Linked DNA regions of Homo sapiens: region 2 is linked to region 1. Evidence: fine-mapped expression QTL. Tissue or cell type: whole blood. Region 1 holds a variant in brackets; the other region holds the start of a gene. All regions are shown on one strand. Distances are from middle to middle.

What was found. PIP is the estimated chance that this variant, and not a neighbour inherited with it, causes the effect.
Region 2: it holds the start of SMAD5, and the variant in region 1 is fine-mapped to the expression of SMAD5 in whole blood (TOPMed, PIP above 0.99).

What each region holds. Positions count from the first base shown.
Region 1 is chr5:136,078,969-136,087,073 of GRCh38, reverse strand. It overlaps VTRNA2-1. Among named protein-coding and RNA genes, the nearest start is that of SMAD5, 50 kb to the left of the region's middle. The variant G/T (reference allele first, on the strand shown) is at 4,438.
Region 2 is chr5:136,128,675-136,136,779 of GRCh38, reverse strand. It overlaps SMAD5 (SMAD family member 5), which reads right to left and starts at 3,935. Exons shown (of 8, transcript NM_005903.7): 1 at 3,818-3,935. SMAD5-AS1 (SMAD5 antisense RNA 1) reads left to right here and starts at 1,890. Exons shown (of 2, transcript NR_026763.1): 1 at 1,890-3,430; 2 at 6,999-7,267. RefSeq lists a silencer at 3,582-4,221 and enhancers at 4,532-4,581, 4,612-4,671.

The DNA of each region.
Region 1 (8,105 bases):
TTGAGTAAATATCTTATAGAATGGCTGGACCATGTGATAGGTGTATGTTTAGCTTTTTAAGAAATTGCCAAACTCTTTCTCTTCCAAAGTGATGATATCATTCTACATCCCCATCAGCAGCATATGTGTTCACATCCTTGCCAACACTTAAAATGGCCTTTTGTTCCAAACATTGTAATAAATGTGGAGTAGTATCTTACTATGGTTTTAACTTGCATTTCCCTAAAGACTAACAATGCTGAGATTTTTTTTTTTCATGTGCTTATTTGCTATCATATATCTTCTTTGGTGAAATGTCTATTCACATCTTTGGCCCATGGAAAAAAATGAGCTGTTTGTTTTCTCACTATTGAGTTATTTTTTATTCTGTATACAAGCCGTTTACCAGGTATACCATTTACAAAGATTTTCTCTCAGTCTGTGGTTTGTCTTTTTATTCTCTTAACAGCATCTTTTAGAGAGCAGAGTTTTAAATTTTGATGTAATTCAGTTGATCAATTTTTTTCTTTTGTGATTCTTTTGATTTTTGATCTTTCATCTAATAAATCTTTGTCTAACTGAAGGTCAAAAAGATTTTCTCCTAGAAGTTGTATGGTTTTTACTTTTAAAATATTTTTTAATTAATTAATTTTTTCTTATAAGTAAGGTCTCACTATGTTTCCCAGGCTAGTATGGAACTCCTAGCCTCAAGCAATCCTCCCACCCTGGACTCTCAAAGTGTTGGGATTACAGGTGTGAGCCACCATGGCCAGCCAAAGCTTCATGCTTTTTAAGTTATATGTTTAAATCTATGATCCAGCATTACTTTTTATTTTTATTTAATGGTTTTATTTTGTGTATGGGAGGAAGTGTGGTTCAAACTTTATTTTTCTGCATATGGATAACCAGTTGATTCAGCCCCATTTGTTAAAAAGACTACACCTTCTCCATCTAATTACCTTTGCAACTTTGTCAAGAATCAGTTATCTATATATGTGTGAGCCTATTTTTGGAGTCTGTTCTGTTCCATTGAACTGTTTGTCCATCTTTACGCCAATACTACACTGTCTTGATTTCTGTAGACTTAAAATTGAGTGGTGATAGCCTTCCGTATTTATTCTTCTTTTTCAAAGTTGTCTGGCTAACATAGGTCCTTTACTTTGTACATAAATTTTAGAATCAACTCGTCAACTTTTTACAAAAAAGCCTGCTGGGATTTGATCAGGAGTGTACTGAATCTGCAGAACAATTGGGACAGAATTGACAACTTAACAATATTGAGTCTTCTGGCCCATGAGCAAGATATGTTTCTCCGTTTATTTAGGTTTTAATTTCTCTCAGAAGTGTTTTGTAGTTTTCAGTTATGGATCTTGCACATATTTTGTCATATCCATTCCTAAGTATTTCATAACTTTTTTGTGCTTTTATAAATGGTACTTAAAAAAATTTCAATGTCTAATTGCTTGTTGCTAATAAATGAGGATACAATTTATTTTTGTATGCTGATCTTGTATCTTGCAACTTTGCTAACTCACTCACTAGTTCTAGCAGCTTTTTCTAGATTCCCTCAGATTTTCTATATTCTGCCAACAATTCTACTTCTTCCTTTCTCAATTGGATACCCTTTATTTCTTTTACTTGATTTATTACACTGGCTAAAACCTTCAATATGATGTTAAAAAAATGGTAAGAGCAGGCTTTCCTGTTTGGTTTGTGATCATAGGAGGAAAACAGTCTTTTCTATTTAAGTATGCTATTAGTGGTATCCCTTTGGTAGAGGCCATTATTACGTTAAGGAAGTTTCCTATCATTCCTAGTTTGCTGGGAGGTTTTTTTTTTAAAAAAATCAGGCATTCCTGATGTTAAAATGTTCAAATGCCTTTTCTGTATCTATCGTTATGATAATGTGAGTTTTCTTTTTTAGTTTTTTAACATAGTAAACTATGTTGATTGATTTTCAAATGTTTAACCAATCTTCCATTTCTGGGATAAACCCCACTTGGTCATGTTGTATTATCCTTTGTATAGATTGTTGGATTGTATTTGCTAAATTATTATTTAGAATTTTTGCATCTATGTTCATAAGGGACATTTTCTGCTGTTTTCTTATAAAGAGTTTGTCTGGCTCATAAAATGAGCTGGCTTCCCTGTTGGCATGCTCTGTCTTTGGAAGGATGCCCTGAGAAAAAGGCCTACATAGATGCTGAAAGCAGGTGGGCACAGTGCCATTCTGGCAGGTGATTTGAGTGTTCTGGTAATGTAGAGCATGATCTAAAAGAGTTCTGGGTTAGGTTATACACTTAAATCTATGCTTTATCATTACCTAAATTTAATTTTTTTAAATGGTTGCGTTTTGTATATGGCAGGAGATAGAGTTCAAACCTTTCCCTTGGTTCCTTCACAGTTCCTTATCACACTGTGGAGAGGTTTCCAGGGAGGGCTCTTTAAAGCATTAGGCTTAGGGCAGGGGCCCCTTTTGCCCAGGACTAAGGCATGCCACCTCCATGAAGCCTTCTGGAATCCTGACTAGCTATCATTTGGAATCCTTGCCTACTATGAATCCCACTTCTTCTGCAACCTTCCTATATGAATTATGCTAGTGAAAACATTCTCTAATGTATTTTCAACTTTTTTTTTTTTTGCCACTGCTTCTTCTCAACAATGTTTAGACATGCTCCAGGCTCCCATCTGAAAAACCTACAACAAGACAAAGCTCTCCCTAGTCCTGAATATCCTTACAACCCTTGCTCCCTCTCTCCTTTCACAGCCCAACTTCCAGAAAGATTTGAACATGCACACTGTGTCCCATGTCCCATTCATTACTCAGCCATCAAAAAGCTGACTCTCAGTCTCACCACTCCTGCCAAGGTGAACAACATACTCCTTGTTGCCACAGTCATTTGGGAGATTGACTGTGTGCAGCCTCTGGCACTGCTGGCCTCACCTCCATCTTGGTCCCTGTTCTGTTGACTTCTCTAATGCCTTGGTTCTAAGCTTTTTCTTCTCTCACAGAACGCTACATACTGATGCTCCTCTGAGATCTCTTTTCTATTCTCTTCTCACTTGTCAGATTGTGCACCTAAATCCAGATGACTTATCCCATTCCCACTGGTAGCCACGTATGCTTGCTCAGGTTGTACACTGCATAACTCTGGAGAGTACCATTGACATCACAGTCATTCTGAAGGGCAACACCCAGATTTGAGTTATGCACAATTTGGCCATATGTGATAGCCTTGCCTGTACATACTCCAAATATATCACTTGACATCCTACAGAACAATGATCTGTTACATGTCCTGGTTGTAAGGCTTTTGAAGGCTGAAATTACCCCCTTAATCAACCCTGAAGGGCTTGGCACAAAGTAGATGATCTTTAAAGGTATGCTGAATAGATGAGCCTGCCACTGAATTTTAGCCAGTATACATTTCTCCACTGAGAAGTACCACCATTGCACAAGCATGAGATTGAACTTCCTTTCAGACTATATGTCCTTTTGGACTAGAGGAAGAGACTGTTTTCTAACCTTCCCCTCACCAGGTACTCCCATTCTTTGAGCCCAACACTAGCTGGACATGCTACTTTACCTTTGAGCCTCAGTTTACTCATCCAGCAAATAAAAGGTTCTACCTTGCAGAGTTTGGTGAAGATTATGGAAGTAAAGTTGTGGAAAGCTCCTCTATCTTCTTTTCACTATTCCAGGGCACTCAGGATAATGCCTCTGACTAAAGGCTACCCCAGGAAAAAATTATTATATTGATCACGAAAGGGCATATGAAGGGCAGGAAACAAAAACCCCAGGAGGTATGTCCTGCCTCACCTGCTGCTAGCCTTCAATTTCAATTCTACTCCAGCTTGTTGGTATCATTTATTAATTAATTCATCCATTCACGTAACAAATGTTGAGCACTTTCTACTGCCAGGTGCTGTGGCAGGCACTGGGAGACAAATAGCATACGTAAGACAGATATGGTCTCTGTCTTCGTGACACTTGTCTCTACCACATTTGGCAATGTCTGGGTTAATGTCTTGTTAATGGTGGAAAGACGTAGGGTGATGCAACAAAGAGTAAGGAGAGTGTGTGGAGAGGAGAGAGGTGGCCTGGCCCTTTAGACAGAGTGTTCAACAAAGAGTTCTCTGAGGTGGTGGCATAAGAATTGAGTGTTAAAGAATGAGATTGGAGGGTGGGGAATCTCTGAGAAAGAGTGAACAGGATGGAAAGGGCATGCCTGAGAAACCAGAGAAGGCAAGGTGGTTGCAGCAGAGCAAAGAAAGAGGAGAGGGGCACCAGGTACTGCCAGAAAGTTAGGTGGGCACCTGATCATCCAGTAAACCCTGTCTGGATTGGATTATAAGAGAGGAGGTCTTTCAAGGTGCTGAGCTGGGAGGGGATGTGATTTGATTTAGAGTGTACAAAGACAGGGGATTTCCTTACTGTCCAGGGACATTTCCCCACCA[G/T]GGGGAGCACCTGGAACGCACCCGCTGGGTCCTTTCTGCTGGCCAGTTTTCATTACTAAATCCAGGCTCCAGGCAACGAAGCCAGGGCTGGATCAGATCAGCAGCTGGAAATGGCTAGCGGGGAAATGGTCATTGGCAGTTATTTTTGTAATTGTTTACCGAGACTACTAGGTACCTAGCCTGAATAAAATGTGTTATTTCAGCATAACTTCCCATACCTCCCTCCATCAGGGGTATGTTATCAATAGCCCCATTTTTGGATGACAACTTGGCAATTACAATGAACATATATGCTATTCAGCCCAGCAATTCCACTTCTGAGAGTTTATCCTCACATTCATGAAATTGCCCATGTTCACAAAAAGGCGTGTGCAAAGGTGTTCATTGGAGCGCTATTGGTAAACTCATGGAAAAAAACAAACAAACAAAAAAACCTTCAATGTCTAGCCCTAACAGGGGATGGCAAAACAAATCATGCTTCATGCACTCTTGGGGAGCCATTATAAATAATGAGGGACCTCCCAGGCATGCTGTGGAATTTCCCACAAAGCAGGTGCAGAACAATGTGTACAGTGCAGTCCTTCATATCAAAACACAGCCATAACCCAAATAAAGCTATATATTTTTAATTATCTTTATATAATAGAAAGAGGACTAGAAGGAGACACAGCAAAATTTTAAAAAACAGTGGTTACCTCTGGGGAGAGATCTGGATTGGAAGCTGCAGTTAGGTCAAGGGTGGTGGGCTTTCACTACCTTTATTGTTTTAATTTTTACTGTACTCGTGGTTTTTGTTTAATACAAAATGAATATGAAAAACAATTAAAAAGTTTAAAGCTACACAGCTAGGAAGAGGGGAAGCTGGATTCAAACCCAGGTTGGGACAGCGCAGTTTCTAGTATAATGGGGTCCTACTATCCCCAGTCACTCACTCACTTAAATGTTTATTGAGTGTCTACTGTGGACCAGGCTAGGAACTGAGGAGGATATAGGGAGACAGCAAAGAACAGAATGGAAGATCCCTGTCTAGTGCAGCTTACCAGTTGTTTGAGATACTTTTAAGCAAGACAGGCAGACAGACATACACTACAGGCAACTCTTTCTTGAGAGTTCAAACTTTGGTTCTGTTCCTGAATATGTCACTTTTTGTTAATTCCTAACATTTCAGTTACTTACCACCACTGATTCTCAGTTTATTCATTTGCAAAATGGGGGCAACATTATGGATCTCAGAGTTGTTCCGGCCATGAAATGAGGTAAATGTTTAACCCAGAGCGTGGCACATGGTGTGTGTGTGCTCAACAAACAGGGACATTATTAATATTCTGAAGGTCCCATTTTCTTTGTTAGCAATTTTCTCCATCCAGCTCCTGAATCTTTCAAAAGAAAAGTAGTGTAGACAAGGGGATGGGTTGGGGAAAAAGAGGAATGATTTATTCTCCTTCAGCCTTAACAGAGCGTTTCTCTTGAGCTATGAAGCTTTTAAATCTTCAGCCTGTGATCTCAATTCTGGGCTTACTCCTGGGCCCTAGTGCCCTGCTAATCACTCATTAATTCATTCAACTCCCCACCCAAAGAGGATTTGCTGATGATGAACTCCGTCTCCAGGGTCCAGCCCAGGACCTGGCAAGAAATGAAACCACAGAACCCCTGCCTTTGGCAAGTTCATAGGCTGCTTCGGGGAGATTTTATGGAGGCCTTAGGCTGCCCCCGTCTGCTGGAGAGAACCCCGAAAAGCCTTTGGCGGGGGTACTCCTCAGCAGCCTGGCTGCTGGACCTAGGTAGACGGCCCACACGCCCCCCCGCACCCTCCTGCCTCCCCTCCAGTGGGTGGATTTTGCCCCCTTCCACGGTTCCCGCGCAGGATGCGGGCGGGAGGAACTGAGAGTCCCTCCAGGACACGTTAGCAGGACGCCTGGCGCAGAGCGGGCGAGACCGCATGACGCAGGCCTCTCGGGGGCGGGGAGCACATGCAGCCCGTCCCTCTCCACATCGTCACTCTTCTATGGTTTAGAAGTTTCAGTCGCACACTCCTACCCGGGTCGGAGTTAGCTCAAGCGGTTACCTCCTCATGCCGGACTTTCTATCTGTCCATCTCTGTGCTGGGGTTCGAGACCCGCGGGTGCTTACTGACCCTTTTATGCAATAAATTCGGTATAATCTGTCACTCTGAAGGCTTTGTTATTTTTTATCCCTTTTAACTTTGCTAAATTAATAGGCTGATAACATAAGTTGGTGTCACTTTGAAGGTGTGACAGAAAGTATGGAGGCTGGCCACTGGTCTTACAGGGCGTGCGTGACCAGCCTGTACTGCCAGGTAGGACGCATGGGGACAAAAAAATGCTTGTGCAGTTCACGAGACACACCTGGAAGCTCCGAGACCCCACAACTTCGGACCGCGGAGTGCGTTATGGATTTCGTCCCAAGTAGGACGGAAGTTTAACAGCAATAGCTGCCGTCTACTGTTTTATCTGTATGACTGTTTTTTTCACATATATTGCCACCCGCCAGGACTTGCCTGTTGGACCACAGCGAGTGAGACTCGCTCCGAATTTTTCTTTACGTCTTTGAAAGTTCCAAGTTTCTTCCTCCCTGGCGGCCTGTACCTACGCTATTCTCACCTGTTCGCATCGTGTCCAGACATTTTATGCAATTTGTCTTTACCTTTAGCGTGGGGGCTCCCCCCTAGAAGCCATACAAGGGCAGGGGCCTCTCCCCTTGCTGTACTTACAGCGTCTAGTACATTGTTGACCAGATTTGAGTATTAGCTGATTTAAGTAGCTTAATGCACAGGGACATGCACATGTGTTTTTCATATTAAATCCCTATAAGTAGAATTGTGGAACACAACTTGCCTATACTTAGGGCTTTAGATTGAAGTGGCCTCAGTTCCCTTGGGAAAGTCTAGGCTGGTATGGGGAGGGGTCTTTTTCAGGGGAGAAAATGCCTGCGTCTCTGGGGAGGCAGAGAATGCAAGCCCAGAGGCAGTGGGTGTTCGCAGTGATGGGCTCCTGGGGGCGCTCTCGGGCGGCCTACAATCCAGAATCGTCTTCTTGTCCCTTGACCCGGTTGCGGACCACTGAGCAGCTGTTCCGCCTTGCTCTGGTACCACCATACGCACCTTTGATCAGGCCCGGCCCTCGCATTCACCAAGTCTTTTTGCCCTGGTAGTGCCCCTACCTGTGGTGCATGTTGCGCCGCACTTAAATTTTGGTGGGGGCACCTCCCCTCCGGTGTGCGCCTCCGGTCCCGCGCGCCTCCTCTCCAGTGTGCACCTCCCCTCCTATGCCCGCCCCCAAGCAGAGAGCCCCAGGGACTGCTGGCGGGCCCCCTGCTACACCTAGGGCTAGTGGGAGTTCCTCCCTCAGTTTGGCAAGCAGGAGAAGGACCTTGGAGATTCACGGACCCCCTCTGTTCCCCACCCAAGAGGTTGGACTGAAGGATCCTTATAGGGGTTTGGGAACAGCGAACATCAGGAGCGAGCACCTCCCTCTGGGAGAGAAACAACCCAGGCACAGAAAGAGGAGCCCAAACTTGAACCTTTCAGGGGAGAGAAACTGAGCTAAGGGGAAAACTATTGAGCTAGACCTATGATAGAAGCCAAGATATTAGCAGTGGTGTTGGTGGTGGCGGAGTGAGGGACTAGAGGGATTCAACTCAACATTTGA
Region 2 (8,105 bases), 50 kb before region 1:
AATTGCAGTGAGTCAAGATCGCGTCACTGAACCCCAGCCTGGGCGACAGAGAGAGACACTCTCAAATAAATAGCCCAGAACTAGCTGATTATTTATGAAAAACCTAAGAACTCTGTAATTACCCCATCTTTCCAGGTTGGAAAACAACAAAGCTGTTAGAATATTAAGGTGGCCTATGAGATTAGTCCTAACAACAATCTAGTTTTTAACAATTCTTCCAAAAGAGTTCTAAATCTTTACCTCCCATTTAGTAAACAAACTTCTCAGATTCAGACTTCTGATTAGAGGTAAAGGGTATGTGACAACACCAATGAACTGCAAATTCCAATGACTATTATTCTATTAACTTCAGAAGTGGAAAAACAAGGTATGTTAAGAGTTCAAGACCAGCCTGGCGAACATGGTGAAACACCGTCTCTACTAAAAATACAAAAATTAGCCGGGTATGGTGGTGGGTGCCTGTAATCCCAGCTACTTGGGAGGCTGAGGCAGGAGAATTGCTTCAACCCGGGAGGCGGAGGTTGCAGTGAGCCAAGATTGCGCCACTGGACTCCAGATTGGGCGACAGAGCTAGAACCCAGTGGCGGGGGGATGCCATGGGTCAGCTTCCAAGGGTCCTTCATCATCTGTTTTGATGGGAAAGCACCCTATATTGCATCCCAGCTTCCTTGGGCCTTTTCTTTTCTCTAGAATATTCTTTTCTCTAGAATATCCAGGTATTCTTTTCTCTAGAATATCCAGACTGGTGGAGACAAGAATCATTCCTCAGGCTACTAGTATCCCTTATAAAAGGGAATCTTACTCAATGTCTTTGACCCTATGAGAAGACGGGCAAATCATAGGCTATAAGCTGCTTGTAACATTTGAAGAAATAAACTATTTGCCTTCTTTGTGGTTAGTGTACAGAGAGACAGAGAGACAGACAGACAGATACAAGGAATATAGATCGTCTAGAAGTAAAAACAGGGAAGACTGATAAACCAAGAGAATAGACACCTATATCCTCAAGCGTACTCAAGTCAGCTCTGAAATTCACCCAGATGTGTGGCTCATTGCCTAGACCAACATATACATCTGGTAATAATAAACACTGATATGTCATAAACAAAAAGAGTTTCTTTAACTCTACAAAGTACTAGTAATATTAAAATTTACATAAAGACAAAGAATATATATGAAATAGATTTTTTTAGATGGTATTTCAACTTAAGTAACTGTATTAAGAAATGAAAAACTGGTATTTTACTGCCTAGTTTTCAAAACACTAAAATCTTTAATTTGACCAAGTTACAAATCTGTTTTCAGTAGAGGGAGAAAACACACTGCCTCCGTTCAATGCAAAGGACAAAAAAGATCATCACTGCAAATCATAATGTTTGGGTTCATGATGAAAACAGGAAACAGACAGGCTGCCCAGGTATAATTATGGTTGTAATCTAATGTGCCTTCAGGTTCAGCCAAGAATTAAAACCCAGTGAAGAGGGTAAGCAGAATTTACTTGCCTCTACTTTGCTGCAGAATGCAACTTTTAATAATACTCCCAGCAACATGTTACATAACCAACAGTAAACAACAATCTGATTCAAACCTCATTAGTAACAACATTCTGCCACTGTCTCCCACTGAAATTAATAGCTGACTTTGCCAGAGGGGAAAGAAATCCAACACATTATCAATCTACCCATTTCTGTGGCGCCTACCACAGTGAACCAGACACGCAGATAATACTACCAGATCTGTACAGAACCTACGAAAATATTTTATTCTTTTTTTCCAGTTTGCTGCTCTCTTCCTCCTTTTAACTAGACCATATCATGTGGATGCCTTTAAAACCTGAGAGTAAAGTCAGTTGAGAAGGTTAATCTAACTTTTCTTGCTTATTTCAGCTATGATCTGAAAGGAATGGAAGCACAAAATGATGAATAAGGTATTTTTAACAAAGATACATGGGTAAATTAACAGCAGTAATGTAAAAAAGACTGAGGGAGCAACAATGTGGAAAGGGAAGGAAAGGAAGCTGTATAGGAACAATCACACAAATAATCATCAAAATTAAACTTTATAAATCTAAACATAGTATCTACAACCTTTATGAAGGTTAAGTTTTGTTAAATTGTCTAAGTTTTGCATTTTTACAATTTTCACTGTAGAGAAAAAAATATTAATAGTTACCAAAGGAATAAAAGACTAAAATAATTTGTTATACATCTGCAAATAGCTCCTTAAATTTGGAACACTAATTTCATAATGATATTTGGATCCATAAATGTGAAACTGTCACACTGAATGTAGGTACTGTTTTCCCCACAATGGATACTACTGCATTGGCATCTAGCAGAAATTGTAAGCTATTTGGAATGTTACTAAACCTACTGGGACTAAGGTTTTCAATCTTTTGTCTTTCAAATTAAAATTAAAAACTAATTCACTCTGGGCAATTCAGGTACTCTAAGGAAATTCAAGTACTCTAGTTTTAAATACGAATTTTCAAAAACGCAACCCAAGTACCCTTTCCTCTCAACTTCTGTGAGGCCAAGCCACGACCTCCACCTATTCAATCTTTGCTGCTAGATAACAACCCTTTTGGTAGTGCTAGGCAACAGGCATGATGTGACAAACCTAGACATCAAAACTTTTCCACAGAAAGATAAGGTAAACAAGATATACTTAGCGCCACACCCATTTAAATGCACAAGCAACCAAAATTGCTCCCTCCCCCCGCAACACCCCCCCCCCCCCCCCAAAGCTCCAGCTGGTCAGGAAACATTGTCTTTACAATCAAGATAAACATCTGGCTCAGGGTGTTCAGCCATTCCTCACCTACAGGCTTGCCTAAGCCCCATTCTCCAATGCCATCACCACCAGAACCGGAACATTCTGTTGGGAAGCCGGCAAACGTCCAAATACCCCAAGTATCCTCGCCCGAGTTCTGCAACCAAAAATCTGTTTTGGCTACTGAGCATGCTCAGACTTAAGACGGGCGCGCCACATGGGAGTTTTCAAAGCTTAGGCTCCAAACTCCACGTAGTAACAGCAGCTGAAAGGAGGAGAGGGGAAAAGGGGAGGGGAAGAGACTGGAATATTAATTTGAGCCCTGATATTGAAGTATAGGACCCGGCCAGCGGCTGAATATGGTGAAGGCAAAAAGACGCTGCTTTGGCATTCTCTTTGCAGCACAGAGAAGTTTACATGAAGTAGAAGAAATCCTTGCAGTGGTGAAAACTGACATGGCAAGTGGCAGAAACCAGGTCTAACTACCAGCTGATTGCAGTAGCCGGTCACAACTGCCCAGAGTGTAATTCCCACCGATAAGCGCGGATCCTTATCTTTGAAACACAAAGCGACGGCGGCACGGATTCATCAAGCCATTGGACAGCTTCGCAGTGCAGCAGCCCAGGCTGCCCGGCCGAGCACCGCAGTCCTATCAAGGGTGTGTATCCAGGGTGGTACATCCGATGAGTTAGGAAAGCAAACCGCTCCCCAGGACAGCGCGGGGTCAGGGGGTCCCCTCCAGGGCGTCCCAGACGCCTCCCTCCAAAGTCTGGGCGGTAACAGCGGGGCTGGGACGAGGGCCAGCCCCGGCCCCGCCTCAGGACGCCCCGGGCAGCCAGCGAGGCCTCCGCAGCCGCTGGGCCGCACCGTGTCCGCCAGCCGGGACCCCGGCAGGCCAGGACTCGGCCTACCTCCCGCCCGACAGGCCCTGGGTCGTTTCCGCTCCGTCCGCGGCCGAACGCCCCCGCCTCGGCCCGAGTCCGCCGGGGCAGAGCCTGCAGCCCCCAGTTCCCCTCGCCCGCGCGCGCCGGGGACCCTCACTCACTCGCGAGCCGGCTAGGCGCGCTCTCCCGACGCCGTCGCTGCGCTTCTCCTCGCTGCAACTTTATTAGCAGCTCGGCCGCGGGACACGCGCACGGCGCCCGCTCGCCCAGGACCCGGATGAGGGAGGGAGGGAGAGGGAGCCCGGGAGGACGCCCGCTGGGGTCGGCGCATGCGCGCCAGAGGCGGAGTGACCGCTGCGGGACCGAGGGAGGGGTGTCTTGCCCGGGCGGCTGAAAGAAGCCTCCGCGCCGGGCTCCGCGCCGGCCAACGCCGACTTCCGATCAGCTGGAGGCCTTCGCGTCGATGGCCAGGCCTGGGAATGGGAATCAGATAGCTCCCACCACCACCACAGTAGGCGCTAGAAGCTTCCACTAACCAAATCAGTATACATTGTAATAAAATTAAGTAATTGTCCTTGACACAGACAACTGGAGGTTTTCTGTCACATACAAAGTGTAAACAAAAACATCTTCAGATACGACTTAGCTACTTTTATTGATCTGTAATACAAATCTGAATGAAGAGTCTTCTTTCTGTGCAAAGTAGCTTCAAAACATGTTTCTGAGCATCTTACAGCTTCTTACTAGATGCAGCACTAAAACCCCTCCCACGGGGCAATCCTGGAACCCTTGAGGGCCTGTGGAAATGGAGCGAGTGCCCACCCTGGAGTTCCAGGAGTGGGACTGCCCATACACTGGATCGCAACCCCAGTTGTTCAAGACACATAGCCTCTCCACCTCCTTGTGGGGAGGGAGATCCCGTGGGGACCCAGCCCCTGGACAGGCGGGGCCACTGAGTTGCAGAGACACCATCCATAGGCTTATATACACCACCCCATCTCCTGGACTCTCTTTTCTAAGTAATTGGAGCTCTTCTCGATGCTTTTTCCTCCAAATTTCCAAAACCGTCAGTATTTCCTAGAATATAATATTGGTACCACATAGGGTACCCGATTTGAATAGTACTAGTAAGAAAAAGCTTTTGAATAATTTTGTTTTTATTTGAAAAGGTCAATACTGGCTCTCCAATGTTCTATTATAGGTTTTCTTTTTAAAATAAGTAAAAATCAAAATCGGGGTCATTTTGGAATGCTCTTTGACACCCTAATCCAATCCATCAGAAATTCTACTGACTCTTTCTTCAAAATTTATCCTAAATCTGACCATTTCTCACACCTCAATTGCCACCTCCATGGCCCGAGCCAGGGTCATCTCATCTGACACACAAATGGCGCAGCCACTATTTTGCTCCAGGCTCTAGAAGTTTATTTCTGTGGAGAAGAAACTAAATAAATGTCCAGAAGTCTCTGCATTAGGGGTGGCCATCTGAAATGGTGACAGAGGGCTAGTAAAGGAGTGAAGGGGAAGTGGGGGAAGAGACCAGAGAGTGAGTGTCTAGTTCCAGAGACCAAAGGGGTCACTGCTATTTCATTCCAGCCAACTGTTACCATAGGGAAATGTGGGAATAAGGACCCAGTGTTGGCAGATATTCTGATTTTTCAAGCAAAGCTGGAAATTTAGATTTTTATGTGAAAATCTCAATTATATCTGTTTAGCAACTTCTTTCTATTTTTCTCTCTCTTTGCCTGTCTCCTGCCCGCCCCCCACCCCGCTCCCTTCCTCTCACTCTGTTAGACATTCTGGAGGCCAACTACATGCAAGCCAAACAAAACAAATCCATGGTCCCGATTTAGCCTACTGGCCACCAGTTTGCAATTTCAGGTCTCCATCTTAAACTTCTTTACTACATCATAAACTTTGAGAAAGTAAAGTCTGTGTACTTTAACTCTTTGTCACACTCACTGATTATTTGTTGTTAATTCAGAAGTTTCCAGCCCTTGGAAGGCAAATATTTCTGGAGCCTGCATGGGTTTACAACTCCCAGAAGTGCATATAATCCTGCCTTGGAGGATACGTTTTTTTTTTTTCCAGAACTGATGTTTGCAGAGTGCTTTGTTGAACATTATAGGACATAACAATTTGGTTTAAATATTTTGTATAGTAGAGATACTCCTCACTTCAAACAGCCAATAAAATCCTTCCCAAAACAAATTATTTGCTGTTTTGCAGTCACTGTACATACGTCAGAAGAATTTGTGATTACAAGATTCCTTTTCATAATCACATATGTAATCTCATAGCCAACAGTTTTGCTTCCTAAGTTATGTGTCCACATACTGATCAAATCAGCCAGCAACTCCAGCCTCTCCAACTTGCTATTTGAGCTCAGTTTAGGTCTAAAGTTGGAAGAGATAACATAGAAGAGAGGAATGGAGATTTTAGTACCACACCAGCAGCCTTCCGAAGGTCTAAGAAATTACCTAGACCTCAAAGACTATGGAAAATCAGAGGGATCACTAAATATCTATACAGTCAAAAACATTATAAAACAGCAAATGAACAGGAATCCCAGAACCATAAGAATGAAGTAAGGAAGTCCCTGTTTTTGGCAATCAAATGGGATCTAAGAACAAATGTAGAACAGGATGATCTGAACAGATAGACATAGTCAGTGGGGCATCAAAATAGACAAACTGCTTTTTTCATTTAGCCATTCACCTGATCAAGAAGACCAGATAAAAGCAACTCCAATACTCAATTTTACTTTACTTGTAGAGAAACCTATTTCTGGACAATTTAGTCCTATAATTCTCAACCAGGGGTGACTGCACCCCCAGGAAACATTTGGCAATGTTTAAAGATGTTCTCGGTTGTCACAACTAGGAGGGCGGTGCTACTAGCATCTAGGCGTTGCAGGTCAGAGACACTGCTGAACATGCTACAATGCACAGAACAGCCTCCTTCTACCAAAAATTAGTCAACCCAAAATATCAGTTGTGCTGTGGTTGAGAAACCCTGATTTAAATCCCAAATAGTTTTTCTTGGGTTGGGTTGATGTTTACAGAAGAAATGATCCTTTCCTTTGAATTTTTTCAATAATCATTTATATTATCAATTTCATGTAGAGAATTAGCCTAAATGTTTAGCCCATGACCTACTCCCTCCTTGAGTTTTTCAGGTCTAAGAAGGAGGCAACTTTCAGGAAAGGTGAGACAATATATGGAAGATGAAGAACTGGAATAATTTAGAAACATTTCTGTATTTTTTAATTTTAAAATGTCTAGTAATTGAGGCAAATTGTTTTTGGTTTGAAAATCATTAATAAATATCTTAATTTTGTAGTTTGCTGTAGCTCAGAAGGCTCTGCCTACATGACTACTGCATACCCTACTGGGAGAATTGGAAGAATGTGATGATGGTAGGAGTCACCCAGCATAGAAGCATGAGTGAATGACATCCCAGAGATCTGCAAAGGATCCTGGTAGCCACTTCAAAGACTTTTTCTCCCTTCCTCAGACAATCATGGCACATGGACATCAGAGGAAGAAATGGCGAAGTTTGTATGACTCCTCCAGCAGAGTCCTTGGAAACAATAAAGCTTCCTTTCCAAATTCTGAGAATTCTGTGTTATTCTTTAATTGGCAGACTGCCCACTGCACCCAATTCTTAATATTGGAAACAGTGCAGAAGCCAGAACTCAACTGAGGAGTTCTGAGATGAGTGAGGTTCCAAGGAAATGATGTGCAGAGGCGCACCCCACAATCCAGTAAGAAAAAGCTCATCATGTTTGTCAGAAGAGATTTCATGTCAGTCTTTAACAGAATGAGCAAACCTTCCATGCTGACCAGAGAATATGCAAAAGTAATTTTATCCAATATTTGAAAGGAGTTTTTTCCAGTAAAATTTTGGTGTTCTGGTGTGAAATGCTTCCCTTATAATCCACAGACCCTTTATTTTCATAGCTCAGAAGTTGAGATCATAATGTATTGAAAAATGAAAAAGTAAAAGAATGACAGCTGCCTCCACTCAAAGCACAGGAATCTGGCAGCCACAGACTCCTTGAAGCTTCAGGGACGGATATCAGAGAATCTGTGACCCCACCCCCGGGAATTAATGTGCACATTTTTGTGTATATACCTACATACAAATTTTCTGCAGAAAAAGCCTATAGCTTTCATCAGATTCTCAAAGGTTTCCTGACCTCCACATGTTTGCAGATGCTTAAGACAGTGGTTACTTTACACGTGGTATAAGTTTAATGTGTCCATTTTAAGGTATCTTTTCTTCTCTTTTTCAGAGCAACATAATTAGGAGACTCCTCTCTAGGGAAGGCAGCTTAATGTAGAGTCTAGAAACCTGGCTTGCCTGTCTCCAGCCATCTGCCACATTAAAGAAGGCCTCCTATGGCTGGAATCCAAGACACAAAATTAAAAGGGTTGCTTGCACCCA